Linked DNA regions of Homo sapiens. The protein of the gene in region 2 interacts with the protein of the main gene of each other region in a biochemical or structural test. Each region holds a gene or a part of one and is shown on either strand. Other genes may lie near its edges.

What was found. The genes of interacting proteins can lie anywhere in the genome.
Region 1: of the proteins of CKB (region 2) and ARIH2, one has a biochemical effect on the other in vitro, tested with the Homo sapiens proteins (2 studies listed by BioGRID).

What each region holds. Positions count from the first base shown.
Region 1 is NC_000003.12:48,925,342-48,928,841, reverse strand, and holds part of ARIH2 (E3 ubiquitin-protein ligase ARIH2), read right to left. Parts: exon of another isoform or gene 1,381-3,500; 5' UTR 1,284-1,380; coding exon 1,029-1,283; coding exon of another isoform or gene 987-1,028; exon of another isoform or gene 171-986; intron 1-170.
Region 2 is NC_000014.9:103,520,031-103,524,076, reverse strand, and holds the start of CKB (creatine kinase B-type), read left to right. Parts: upstream 1-1,246; 5' UTR 1,247-1,311; intron 1,312-1,571; 5' UTR 1,572-1,583; coding exon 1,584-1,776; intron 1,777-1,899; coding exon 1,900-2,054; coding exon of another isoform or gene 2,055-2,126; coding exon 2,127-2,259; intron 2,260-2,642; coding exon 2,643-2,814; intron 2,815-3,484; coding exon 3,485-3,608; intron 3,609-3,765; coding exon 3,766-3,955; intron 3,956-4,034; coding exon 4,035-4,046. UniProt on the Homo sapiens protein: Reversibly catalyzes the transfer of phosphate between ATP and various phosphogens (e.g. creatine phosphate).

The sequences.
Region 1 (3,500 bases), on a different chromosome or scaffold from region 2:
CAAAAAAAAAAACAACTTAGCTTTCAGCTTCCAGCCAGTTGCTAATAAAGACCTGAGTATCTAAATTCAAGGTATTAGCCTTTGCCAACCATCTGGGGAAAAAAAAAAAAATCCCTAAACTAGTAGATAAAGCAAATTTTATAGAAATCATACAAGGCACACCTTAGTTATTTCTGTTTAAGTTCCAATAAAATTTATTTGGTTGACATCATGCCAAGGTGCCCTTTTGACCTCCAATTTAATCAGAAACAAAATCCAAGTAACAATTCATGAAAAAAGATTAGTGAAAACACTAAAGAGAAATATTTCCAATTTCCCATAATGGCCAGTGTTAGAGAAGGAAACATGCTTGTTGGGAAACTGTCAAAATGATCATAAAAAATGTAAATAGGATAATAACTGGCCTAAGGTACAAGACATCCAAAGGTATGTTTTAGCTTATGTGTTAAATAAAATGCTTGCTGATGGGGTAATCAACTTTGTTCATTCTTTACAATTTCCATACTAACACCCCCTAAATCAATGAAATACAAGCATAAGAAAGAATTATTATTAAAATCAGTACATGAAACAAATGAGCTCATTAGCCCAAAGGCAATGACTATTCAGGGCAAACCAGAGGGATCTGTATACTCTCAAGACATTTATCAGTCACTCACAGTCGTACAGAAGATGGTGATTCTGATGCTTATTGTATCAACCTCATAAAATTCTGAAAACTCACTTCCTGAAACGTGCAAAGTTGTGCAATTCTGCTACTACACATTTCTGGTATGGTACATCTTTCTTGAATCTGTCCCACCCCTACTTTCTAATTCTTACTAATTTGGGAATCTGAGGACCTTAGACATGCATATATTAGAAAACAAAGTAAATGTAACAAAATGTCCAAATGATGTTGACATACACTTAAATTTGGTTTCAAGCTACAAGGCCATTCAATTAGTCTGGAGGAGACATTAATTAACAACAGCTCATCCTTAGATTTAACTGGGGGGGATTACACTGGAGTTTACAACACTGCTCACCTTTAGGACAGAAGCTAAGCTGGTCATGTGCTCATTGAGGGCACCCTCAGATTCCTTGTAGGTCAAGCAAGTGAACTGGTACTCCTCGGGATCAAAGGCATCAGCCCCCTGCTGCTCCACATCGCTGGCTACTCCCACGTAATAGTCCTCTATGTCCCCAGGGTCGTCTTCTTCTTCTTCTTCCTCTTCCTCACAATTTGGGTCATAGTCCTCTTCATTGCTGTCAGACCCCTGGCTATTCATGTCCACTGACATCTTAGCATCCAGCCAAGTTGCAGATCAGGAAAGCAGTTGCTTTTTCCCCCTCCCCCCAAAACTACCGCTTTCTCAAATGCATTAGTATTTTTGTCTTCTAAGGGAGGAAAAAAAAAATAAGTGTTACTTTTTCCCCATGACAAGTTGTAACAGAAACCATTCAAGAATCAAAATGGGACAGTCCTGGCCCTAATCTCACTACAGCCTATTCCAACTCTGGTATCACATGGGGAATCTTACTATCATCCCCCTGGCCCAGGCTTATAAAAGGGAAATCCTTCCCTGGAGAGACAGAAGCAGCTAATAAATGGTAACTTCACATGAAAGGCCTGGCATGACAGGGCAAGGCTGTCTGCTCTATGTCAGAAAGTCAAATTCCAATGAACTTGTTATTCTTGCCAAAGTCCTTAAGGGAGAAGCACATCCCCACAGCTGGCAGCCCAGAGGGGAGGCAACATAAAGGTTTAACTACCAAAGTTTAAAATTTTGCTTATCATGCCCCGTTAGTATTGATACAGACAGTACATAAATAGGAACACTTCCTGCTGTAATATGTAGAAAAAGAAAACCACTGTTTCACAGACATTACTTTTAGGTGTCTGAAAAATAGGTGCATAGTTGGTAAAGAAAAAAAAAACACACATAGGTGTTCAACATCCTCCTCTAGTCTGCAAAGTTGACTGATTTTTCAGGTTTAAAGAGTTCTACTGGCCGGGTGTGGTGACTCATGCCTGTAATCCCAGCACTGTGGGAGGCTAAGGTGGGTGGATCACTTGAGGTCAGGAGTTCAAGACCAGACTGGCCAACATGGCGAAACCCCATCTCTACTAAAAATACAAAATTAGCCAGGTGTGGTGATATGCACCTGTAATCCCAGCTACTCGGGACGCTGAGGCAGGAGAATCACTTTAACCCGGGAGGCAGAGTTTACAGTGAGCCAAGATTGCGCCACTGCACTCTAGCCTGGATGACAAGAGTGAAACTCCATTGGCCGGGTGCGGTGGCTCACGCCTGTAATCCCAGAATTTTGAGAGGCTGAGATGGGTGGGTCACCTGAGGTCAGGAGTTCGAGACCAGCCTGGCTAATATGGTGAAACCCTGTCTCTACTAAAAATACAAAAAAATTAAGCAGGCGTGGTGACAGGCACCTGTAATCCCAGCTACTTGGGAGGCTAAGACAGGAGAAACGCTTGAACCCAGGAGGCGGAGGTTATAGTGAGCTGAGATTGCGCCACTGCACTCCAGCCTGGGCAATAAAAGCGAAACTCCGTCACACACACACGTACACACATACACACACACACACACACACACACGAGGGAAACTCCATCTCAAAAAAGAAAAGCCCGCAAACAGCGAAATGTTACTTAATTACATATAAACGAAAAGAGAATACTAGTTGAGAAAGTGAAACAGTCACAAACCCTAACTTCAACTCACAGAAGATTGTGGCAAACACCCATTAACTTTTCTACACAACTACCATTTCAACTGATGAGCTGAAAGGAACAATATCAACTAGCGATTTAAATCTAAAACTAGGCCAGGTGCGGTGGCTCACGCCTGTAATCCCAGCACTTTGGGAAGCCAAGGCGGGTGGATCACGAGGTCAGGAGATCAAGAGCATCCTGGCCAACGTGGTGAAACCCCATCTCTACTAAAAATACAAAAATTAGCTATACGTGGTGGTGCGTGCGTGTAATCCCCAGCTACTCAGGTGGCTGAGGCAGGAGAATCACTTGAACGAGGGAGTCGGAGGTTGCAGTGAGCCGAGATCCCGCCACTGTACTGCAGCCTGGCAACAGAGTGAGACTCCATCTCAAAAAAAAAAAAAAAATCTAAAACTAATAGAACCTTAAAGTGTAAGAGCATTTGGATTTAACAGTACATAAACAATTTATATAAACAAATCTTGATTAAATACAAAAGCAAATATAAAGTCTACTTGAAGTAGGTAATCTGTCTGAAAAAAAACAACCAACCATAATCTAAAACAAAGACTGAGGGTGTGGCTCACAACTATAATCCCAGAACTTTGGAAGGCTGAGATGAGAGGATCCCTTGAGGCCAGGAGGTCAAGATCCACCTGAACAACCTAGTGAGACCATGTCTCTACAACACATTTAAAAAAAAAAAAAAAGAAATCAGCTGGGCGCGGTGGCTCATGCCTGTAATCCCAGCACTTTGGGAGGCCGAGGCAGGTGGATCACGAGGTCG
Region 2 (4,046 bases):
CCTGATGGATATTAACCCCACATCCTCCACTTCCCCCTCTTAACAGCTGCATAATATTCCACAGCAAGCAGATGCCTCCCTACCCTTGGCCACTCCCGCCTGATGGGGCATCGGGTTGTATCCAGTTATGTTTGTTTTTCCCTCCACAGATCTCTTGGTCCATTAGTGGAGAGAACTGAGACATCCTTTCTAAGGGCTGCATTCCTAGAAGGGGAGATTGCTGGGTCACGGAGTTCGAACATTGTTAACGTTAATAGATTCTGCCAAATTATCTTGCAAAAAGCATGCAGCAATTTAAGTTGCAGGCAGCGTGTGGACGCCTGTCTTCCCGCATTCCAGCTCAAAGCCAGCAATGGCTGGGGTCGATCTGGGAGTGTTGGGGGTAGGGGCAGGTGGAGTCACTGCTTAATTTGCATGATTCTGGTTATTCGTGAGATCAGTTTTTTTTTTTAATCGCACTTATGCTTATTGTTTATTAGCGTTTCCTCCCATCTTTGCCTGAAGTCTCCGGGGACTGCCTTTGGGGGTCGGGTAAACTTGTCCCCTGCGAAGAGGGCCCAGGGTTGGGGTCTGGAAACTCCGAGGCTGCACTTGCCAGCGGCCTCTTAAGGCCACAGCGTCCCCGTGGTTTCTGGCTCGCAGCCCCCCGAGACCCAGGACTTGTCCAAGGTCAGGGCACCGCGGGTGCCCCCGGGCTGGGCCGCAGCCAGACTGCGCTTCCCGCGCGCCTTCGCTTTGCACCAGGATCGCCCAGGAAACGCCTGCGGGCACCTTGAGGAAGGTCGGCGGCTCCGGGCCAGCTCGCACTGGCCGGGGGTGGGGCGGGGGCCGTACCTGCTGCGGAAGCCCCGAAAGCTTTCGCCCGGCCCCTCGCCGCCGCCGCGGGGGCTGGCTGGACTAGGCGGGCAGGCTCGAGGATGCGGATGAACCCAAGCGTCCTCGAGTGCCCGGAGGCTCTCCGCCTCAGTTTCCCGCCCAGAGGCAAGGGCGTGCGAGGGGATCCAGATATCCAAGGACCTGAGGTTTCGGCCTCGAGGTCTTGGGCGGGGGACTGGGCAGGCTGCGCGGGGTCCCAGCGAGGGGACAGCTCGGGTGGGCGGCCAGGGTGTTGGGGGCTGCGGGCGGCGGACAAAGCGGCGGCACCACCCCGCGGCGCGGGCCAATGGAATGAATGGGCTATAAATAGCCGCCAATGGGCGGCCCGCGTTGTGCCCCTTAAGAGCCGCGGGAGCGCGGAGCGGCCGCTGTTCGCCTGCGTCGCTCCGGGAGCTGCCGACGGACGGAGCGCCCCCGCCCCCGCCCGGCCGCCCGGTGAGTGGGCCCGGGGGCCGGGGGCGTCCGCGCCCGGGCTAGGGGCGCTGCGTGCAAAGGGGGCGCGTCGCCTGGAGCGCGCGCCGGACCGGCCGGGGGTCCCCGGCGATGATGGCGCTCCCCGCGCGCGCTGCGGACCCCGCTGACCTTGGCCGCGTCCCGGGGGGCGCCGGGGGGCCCGGCGGCGGGGGCCTGAGTGGTACGCGGGAGCCCGGGAACCCCGGCGTGCCGGTCCCCTCTGACCCCGCGTCTCCCCGCAGCCCGCCGCCGCCATGCCCTTCTCCAACAGCCACAACGCACTGAAGCTGCGCTTCCCGGCCGAGGACGAGTTCCCCGACCTGAGCGCCCACAACAACCACATGGCCAAGGTGCTGACCCCCGAGCTGTACGCGGAGCTGCGCGCCAAGAGCACGCCGAGCGGCTTCACGCTGGACGACGTCATCCAGACAGGCGTGGACAACCCGGGTACGCGACCCCTCGGGGCCGGGGTCCCGGCCCCCCCTCCCCCCGCGCAGCCGCAGGGTCCTCAGCAGCGCGCTCGGGCCCGGCAGTGACGTCACTGTCCCCGTCCCGCGCCCCCTCCCCCAGGCCACCCGTACATCATGACCGTGGGCTGCGTGGCGGGCGACGAGGAGTCCTACGAAGTGTTCAAGGATCTCTTCGACCCCATCATCGAGGACCGGCACGGCGGCTACAAGCCCAGCGATGAGCACAAGACCGACCTCAACCCCGACAACCTGCAGGTGCGGGGCTGCGGGCGGGCCGGGCGGGCGGGGCCGGGGTCTTCGGGCGCTCACTCCCGTCTCGCCTCCCAGGGCGGCGACGACCTGGACCCCAACTACGTGCTGAGCTCGCGGGTGCGCACGGGCCGCAGCATCCGTGGCTTCTGCCTCCCCCCGCACTGCAGCCGCGGGGAGCGCCGCGCCATCGAGAAGCTCGCGGTGGAAGGTAGGGGCCGGGCGGGCCGAGGGGCGGCGGCGGCCGCGTCCCCCTCCCGGCGCGGTCCCCGCCCGCTTTTGTTTACGTCGCCCGGGAGCGGCAGCCGCCGTCGCGCTCTTATCTGCGCGCGCCCGGGTTCAGTTTCCCGGAGGGACCGAGGGACGGAGGCCCAGCCCCGCGCCCACAGCGGCCTGGGGCCCAGGGAGGGCGGGTCCTGGCGCGGGGTCACCGCCTGGGACCGTCGCCCGGGCCGTGAGGACTGGACGCCCGCAGATCCGGGCGGGTGGGGCCCTCTGACGTCCCCCGAGGTGGGGCACGGGGGCGGGCGGGTCCGCGCTGCGGGCTGGAGGGGCGGGCGCGGGAGCCGAGCGTCCTGAGCGCACCCCTCGCAGCCCTGTCCAGCCTGGACGGCGACCTGGCGGGCCGATACTACGCGCTCAAGAGCATGACGGAGGCGGAGCAGCAGCAGCTCATCGACGACCACTTCCTCTTCGACAAGCCCGTGTCGCCCCTGCTGCTGGCCTCGGGCATGGCCCGCGACTGGCCCGACGCCCGCGGTATCTGGTGCGTGTCCCTCTGCGCCCTCTCGCGGCGTCCTCCCTCCCCGCTACCTCCGCTTTCCCTCTCGCCCCCCTCGCGGGGGTGGGGCCCCTCGCGGCGAGGAGGAGGAGGAGGAGGAGGGAGGGGCCGGCCGCGCTCCGGGTCTGGGTTCCGTGCCGCGCCTCCTCCTGCGCCGGTGACCTTGGCCGAGCAGGTGCGTTAAGGGACTGGGCCCCGGCCCGTGGGGGCTCAGGACTCAGCAACACCTCCCCACCCCGAGACGTGAGGTGGGGGCGGGGCTCTCTGGCGCCTCTCCCCGACGGCCCTGGGAGCTGGAGCTCTTTGTTTTCTTTTCTCACTCCTCCGCCGCTGGGATTCTACCAGGGGCTGGTGACGCCAAAGCTTCTCCAGGGGCAGGGCTCCTACCCCCACTGTGGGGGGCGGGTCGGGCTGTCCTGGCGGTCCCTGGCCCCGCCCCACCTCAGGCCACAGCGCATGATGGCAGCTGGGGTTCTCCTGCTGTGAGGCGTCCCGGTTCCCCCGCCCGCCCCGTGTTGGCGGGTGGAGTCTTGGCAGCAGCCTCCACTCCTGGGCATGGCAGGGAGCAGCACCTCAGGGACTTGGGAAGTTCCTTTGGTCTGGGGGCGGCCTGGGGCTTTTTTCTGGGTATGCCCTGAGACCAGCCCTCCCGCAGGCACAATGACAATAAGACCTTCCTGGTGTGGGTCAACGAGGAGGACCACCTGCGGGTCATCTCCATGCAGAAGGGGGGCAACATGAAGGAGGTGTTCACCCGCTTCTGCACCGGCCTCACCCAGGTGCCAGGGACGGGGCAGGCCCAGACCCCAGGGCCCCAGCAGGGATGTGGGTGCCCCAGCATCAGTCCCCCCGGGGGATTTCCGGCACTGGGGAGTCTCAGGGCCTGTAGGGGTTTCAGGCAGGCCTTCTCCCTCATACCCTCTTCTCCGTCTGCAGATTGAAACTCTCTTCAAGTCTAAGGACTATGAGTTCATGTGGAACCCTCACCTGGGCTACATCCTCACCTGCCCATCCAACCTGGGCACCGGGCTGCGGGCAGGTGTGCATATCAAGCTGCCCAACCTGGGCAAGCATGAGAAGTTCTCGGAGGTGCTTAAGCGGCTGCGACTTCAGAAGCGAGGCACAGGTGAGCAGGGCAGGTGCTGCGGCTTCCCGTGGCCTTTGGGCAGCCCTGTTTCCTCCGCCCTGACTTGCTGTCTCCCCAGGCGGTGTGGACA